2 linked regions of the Homo sapiens genome follow. The protein of the gene in region 2 interacts with the protein of the main gene of each other region in a biochemical or structural test. Each region holds a gene or a part of one and is shown on either strand. Other genes may lie near its edges.

What was found.
Region 1: the proteins of PRR16 (region 2) and LNX1 interact in a test that uses a peptide from one of them, tested with the Homo sapiens proteins (one large-scale study listed by IntAct).

The regions. Positions count from the first base shown.
Region 1 is NC_000004.12:53,479,987-53,483,486, forward strand, and holds part of LNX1 (E3 ubiquitin-protein ligase LNX), read right to left. Parts: intron 1,869-3,500; coding exon 1,734-1,868; intron 1-1,733.
Region 2 is NC_000005.10:120,684,300-120,687,814, forward strand, and holds the end of PRR16 (protein Largen), read left to right. Parts: intron 1-1,654; coding exon 1,655-2,410; 3' UTR 2,411-3,015; downstream 3,016-3,515. UniProt on the Homo sapiens protein: Regulator of cell size that promotes cell size increase independently of mTOR and Hippo signaling pathways. Acts by stimulating the translation of specific mRNAs, including those encoding proteins affecting mitochondrial functions.

The DNA of each region.
Region 1 (3,500 bases), on a different chromosome or scaffold from region 2:
TTGATGCCTAGCATTCCTTAACTTTTTTAATTGGCTAAAAGTTTTCTGTCCCACAAATCCTGCTTTGTCTTCTTTGGTATTTCTTTGAATTGTTTAAGCTCTTATTTTTAAAAAGCTACCTGGTTTCCTAAACCAAACAAGATTTTAGTAAGAATATAAAAACTGAAATAATCAAAGAGCCATATATGTCTCAGTTTTTTTAAATATGTTACTTTTTTGTGAGGATATTTCAGAAGTCAGATAGAATATAAGTTAAAACGGAAATAATTACAATTCCGACTAAGTCAGTTTGCACGTTTCCAGGAATTAAGACATATGACAGAGGGTTGCAGCAGAAATGTGACCAGATCCTCCCAGCTCTTTCATGATGAGGAGGTGGAAGGAATTCTAAAACCACAGTGCAGATGGAGGCTACCTTCTCCATAATTTGATGACTTAGAATATGACGTATTCTAGTTAATTCAACTAAAATTAGTTAATTGGATAAAAACTTCAATTAATTAATTAAGCTAATAAACTAGTTTTTCATTAATAAAGATGATCAGTTAAATTTAAACATTAAGCATTTACTAGCAAAAAGACATCACGGAGTCCTTATCCATAAAATGTTTTAGCAGGATATATCTGGTCTGTCTAGACTCCTTATTGTAGAGAAACAGGTAATTTATGGATTTATGAGGCTTGGCTGGCTGGAGAACCTGGAGGGGTGTATAACCTTGTAGGCTATGTAATTAACATAGTATAAAGCAGAGATGTTCCAAAATAAAAAATTTGAATATTGTTTCTCTATATATTACTCAAAAACTCAATTTGTAAGCTATTCCAACCAACATATAGATTGACGTAGAAAGAAAAGGGCATTCCCTACTTTCTGTTGCAAGAAGAATGAGCTACCTTTAAGAATTTTTTTTAGTTACAAGTGATGCCATGAAACCAGAACTCAGGAGAGATGACTGAAAGAAGCTCATCAGCATCACAACAGGATGCCAAGCCAAAGCTATAGGACTCTTAATTTGGACTAAACAAGGTTTGTGTTGCTTAAACACGCATCCAAATGAAGAGGTTAAGGCATTGCCTCTAATAGAAGCCACAGAGAGAAGTACAAATTGGGCTGAGTCACTTCATTTAAAGTGAGGCTGCAAACTGGTGGCCTGAAGAATGAATTCCACCCACAGATCCACAGTGTTTTAGAGTTTTCTGGATTTGAATGCCATATAACATGTGCTCTCTGGTTTGCCCCAATCCCCACCACTCCCTAATGTTACATGAGCTTCAAGTGTTTAAATTATCTTCCTGGGCCCTTCGGCAAACACAAACAAAAACTAAAAGTAGCGGGGAAATCACTCATTTCTAGGCAGACTGAAAAATTCAAAAGCCAGAAACCAGGCAAACTGCTTGCTTCATTTCAAAGTGAATAAAATAAGTCCTCAAACAAGATGACTCTTGGTAAAAACATGCCATTTATTTGGCTTAGGCTAGAAATCAGGTCCCTGTATGAGGTCTGCATGATCAGGTTTCAAAACTTTCCTGCACCTTCTTCTCTCCTGCTTGGATGGGAGACACCTGTTATCTCTCCAAGTCTTAAATATGGGACTTTGGGCTTTTAGTTTTACAAGTCAAAGTGTTTCTTTAAGTAAAAAAGTCCAGAGATGACACTTAGACATGTTAAAACAAGCAGCCTTCCCAAGAAATAGCCCCTTGCAGGAGCAGGCGACCTGCCCTAGAGGCCTCACCTTGGGAGTGTTGCTCCTCTCCCCTGGCCCTGGGGACCAGCTGCCATTGCTGTTCCAGCCGGCTTCCTGAAAGATGTCAGGGCTCCGCTGCCGAACCTGGCGGGACACGACGAGGTGAACACGTCTTTCACTGGCCTGGGCAAGAAGACACAGGCATTAGCCACTGTCAGTTTCCATCCACTGCATTCAGCACCAGGAGCTTACAAAAACATCACTTTGATTATACCATTTTTTTATGGCAAAACATGATTTCTAGTTTGTTGGGTTTTTTTGTTACTATCCATCTTGTAATTTGCCAAGAGCATGAGAGCTCTTTCCTTTATCCTTAAACCAGGTAGTAAATGTTGCTCCAAGGGAAAACTAGGGAAGGTTTGGTTCCTTCCAATCTTTGAAAAGGCATCATCAGATATTGCTAATTCATTTTTAATTAATGGTTGTACCACACACAAGCCATGCCCTAAGTTCTTCCCAGATAGAATTAGGTGCACTGTGTAAAGTAGCAGCCCAAAGCAAAGATCTAAGATCAATGGTACACAGTAAAGAAAAAGAGATGGAGTTAATGGCAGTAACTTGCCACTGCAGGAAGAGAAATCCTGAGCCTGACACTTGCAAATATTTGGGCATAGGAAAGGTTTAGCACTTTAGAAATATGGGGATGACTTCATACATTAATATGTACAACCTAATCAAAATCCTTTACCTTCAATTCACAATCACAAAGACATGGAATCAACTTAAGTGCCCATCAACTGATAGGTAGATAAAGAAAATGTGGTATGTATATACCATGGAATACTACTCAGCCACAAAAAAGAATGAAAAAATGTCTTTTGCAGCAACTTGGATGGAACTGGAGGCCATTATTTTAAGTGAAGTAACAGAGGAATGGAAAATCAAATACTGCATGTTCTCACTTGTAAGTGGGAGCTTAGCTCTGGAGATGCAGAGGCAGAGTAATATAATGGACTTTGGAGACTCAGAAAAGGGGAGGGTGAGTGGGGTGAGGGATGAAAAACTGCCTATTTGGTACAGTGTACACTATTCAGGTGACAGGTGCACTAAAATCTCAGACTTCACCACCATACAATGCATCCATGTAACCAAAAACCACGTGTATTCCTAAAGCTATTGAAATACAAAATGTTTAAAAAACTGCAAAAGAGTAATTTGCCTTGATTTCTTTATTTTTTATGGAACTACCAGTTACTCTGCTAATTCTCTCTGCTATGTACATTGATATTTGGACAGGCATTCAGAATAGCAAATATAGTACTTATTGGAAAGGTCCACTCCACATCATCGATATGGTTTGACTGTGTCCCCAGTCAAACTTCACCTTGAATTGTAGCTCCCATAATTCCCATATGTCATCGGAGGGACCTGGCAGGAGGTAACTGATTCATGGGGGTGGGTCTTTCCCATGCTGTTCTCGAGATAGTAAGTCTCACGAGATCTGATGATTTTATAAATGGGAGTTCCCCTGCACAGGCTCTCTTGTCTGCCACCATGTAAGACATCCCTTTGCTCTTCCTTCATCTTCCACCATGACTGAGAGGCCTCCCCAGCCATGTAAAACTGTGAGTTCATTAAACCTTTATAAATGACCCATTCTCGGGTATGTCTTTAATAGCAGCATGAGAGCAGACAAATACAATGATACATTTACAAATTGTCTTTCTGCCACAGATTAGTTTCACATGTGTCAGGTAGTATGGGCCATTATTCCAGAATTGCTGACCATTGAGATTTCAGAGCTGCAGGTCATTC
Region 2 (3,515 bases):
CCTTTACCTGCCTGGTGGAATCAATCACTTAAGAGCCTCATGAGGAGGAAGTAAAGTCTATATCCTGTCCAACGTCTAGATGCTTTTGGTGTTTTCATTTTGAGCCCAATCCTGCCACCATGTGACAAAGAGCCAACTTCACAGTTGATTAAACTTAGACCTAAGTAAGAGAGGAGGGAAAAATCTCCATATGGAATAAATGTGATGGAAATGTGTGAAATGAAGGAACTGTCTCCTTACATAAACTATTTTTAAAACAATCCATAACTTTTCCATTCTCATATGTGTATAACAGTGCAGGTATGGTGGCTATGAGAATGGCCTCCAAGACCTCTGAATGCAGAGTGTAAATGACTGAGGACCCTGATGCTGTACTCTGAAAGTCAGCATTTGAGCAGTGACCACACTGCTGCTCCCAGCCAATGACTGAACAGGGCAGAGACAGTAAGGTTGCCCTGTTATGGGAGATGTCAGACTCCCCAGTATCCTTGCCAAAGTCTCCTTAGAACTGCATTGTCTAAGATACTTCCATTCAATGTTCCTATCTTCACAACCTCTCTCCTTAACGTGGGTTCCCACCTGTCTTATGCTCTGATGCCTCTGCCAGCCTTATCTGAGTCCCTGGCTCCTCTGCCTGGTACCTGTAGTAGCCCTTGACTGGTGTGACTTCCTGTCATTCACCCAGTGATAGTAAACATCTGCTTTGTATTAGTTTAGGGTCCTGGGCCCAGATAATTTTCTTTCCCTTTCTCCAAGGCGAGACAGCTTTTGCTTCTACCCTCTCTCAGAAGCAAAATATCTTTGCCTGTGTCTTACAGGTTGGAGGGTTTCTTGCTACTGCACCAGTAAAGGTTCTGCTTTATAAGGGAGAACAGTCTGAGAAGTAAATGGGGTTTTGTGCCTGTGTGCCCACCAGGGGCTCTCTTCCATCTCTTTCCTCCTCTCAGCATGAGAGGTCTGTGTAAAGGAGGCCATGAGTGAGTACAGATGATACTGTGTCTGAGACTCCCAAGGATTCTAAATTGTCATAATAGCACATATTCAACCTTTAATTAGTCATCAAAGTTTTAGTTGCTTTCTTCATTCACTCTGATGGTTGCTGCCTTTTTTTCCTGTGATTTTCTAAAGGTTGAACAGTTGATGTTTTCTGTATATCCTCAGAGGGCTTGAAACTCTCAACAGTTGAGTTCATTTGGTTGCCTTGTGAGGTCAAGTCTCTGTTGGTCTCAAGAAAATTATGATTTTGCAGATTATCTTTTTTTTTAATTTCAAGATTGGAAGCAATGTTCTCCTACAGCTTTCTGCATGTTAAGCAGAAGGGAAATGCCCTCTGATTATTTTTAAAAATCAGTTATATTCCTGCATCAGGTTTCATATTTTATGGGTGGGTATATCAGAGTCAGAAATAGAATGTATATATAAATCATATGTTATGTTCTAAGCATGTTAAATTATATTATCATACAGTTGGTCCTCTGTGTGATGGTCACTATTCTGTAAATTTATTGACTGAAAACATCAAGCAGCAATGGAATGTTCAGTTCAATATCAGTTAAGGCTTCCATAGCAGATTTCCCCTAGACAAAAATAAATTGTTTCTAGTATACTTTGTTTGGGTCATTCTTCAAAACAATTACCTTGTCCTTTCCACTAGGTGGTTGACCAGATTGACACCCTGACCTCTGACCTACAGCTGGAGGATGAGATGACTGACAGCTCCAAAACGGACACGCTGAATAGTAGCTCAAGTGGCACAACAGCCTCCAGCCTAGAGAAGATCAAAGTGCAGGCTAATGCACCGCTTATTAAACCCCCAGCACACCCGTCTGCTATCCTCACGGTCCTGAGAAAGCCAAACCCTCCACCACCTCCTCCAAGGTTGACACCTGTGAAGTGTGAAGACCCCAAAAGGGTGGTTCCAACTGCCAATCCTGTAAAAACCAATGGCACCCTTCTACGAAATGGAGGCTTACCAGGTGGACCTAACAAAATTCCAAATGGAGATATCTGCTGCATACCCAACAGTAACTTGGACAAGGCTCCAGTCCAGCTTCTGATGCATAGACCTGAAAAAGACAGATGTCCCCAGGCAGGGCCTCGAGAACGAGTTCGGTTTAATGAAAAAGTACAGTACCATGGCTATTGTCCTGACTGTGATACCCGGTATAACATAAAAAACAGGGAGGTCCACTTACACAGTGAACCTGTCCACCCACCGGGAAAGATTCCTCACCAAGGCCCTCCCCTCCCTCCTACACCCCATCTCCCTCCTTTCCCACTAGAAAATGGGGGAATGGGAATAAGCCACAGTAACAGCTTCCCCCCTATCAGACCTGCAACTGTGCCTCCTCCCACTGCACCAAAACCACAGAAGACGATCTTGAGGAAGTCAACCACTACAACCGTGTGATGTATGCCATTAAAAAAATTGTTTTTTTAATTTTCTATATTATAAACATAAAATAAGTAATGAGCACTTTCTACTCAAGCAATAAAAAGCCCAAATATATTAATCCTGCATTCAGCAAAGTGGCATAAAAATCACCTGGTAAGTATGCAGCACATTGCTTATATCCTGGGTATGCATTATTTTAAATGTTGTATCATTAAAAACCTCAGAATGATGAAAAATATGAATGATGCATTGTTTTTGCAATTGACCTATGACAAACTGTGAACCTGCAGATTTCACCTATTTTGATTTACTATAAGAGCTGGGATTTGATTCATTTTATTTATGCCTAAGTCATCTATGCATTAACATGTCATATTCTTAACTTTGATCTAATGCTTTTTACTAGGAAATTTTAATACTGAAGGACTATTTTATTATTTTTTTCTAAAGATGTTTGTCACTAGTTTTTCATTATTAAATGCTGAGGCCAATACCAAGAAGTTTATTTTCTATATTATACAATTATGAATTACATGCTCAGCTATATATGTAATAAAATACTTTGGTCTGTGGAAATATTGTTAAATCAATAAACAATAGTAAATAATGACAAAAGCAAATGTTCCTCAGAATTAAAATGAAGTAGTGGTTCATTTAATCTCACTTAACATTCCTCAATATGGGCAGCAAATCTGACAGAGTTTGGAGAAGTTACAGTGAGTGTATATCAGAATTTTCTAAATGAAATATCATATTCCACATCATAAATCAAAATCTACACACTACATATTTTATACTTCCATTTGGTACTTCAAGAGCCTTCTGTTGAACTCTCCCTATGTTGCCAAGCCCTCCTCATACTCAGCATTCTTCCAGGATGTACCCTAAACTATTACATTGAGGCTGTAGGGTGTTTTGCCTCCTGCATTAGCAAGCTCTCTGCCTCCCCAAGTGGACCCACATTTATAGGAGAATTATAGGGGGATATCTGAATGCTTCTGGTATCAGGATGTGTTCAGCATTTGGCGTAAGTTTTTCCCCCTCAGAGTTGAAAGATACCATGGGCCGTTGCTGTCTTCTAAAAGAAAGAGAAGAAATCTTTCCTTCTAACATCAAATAA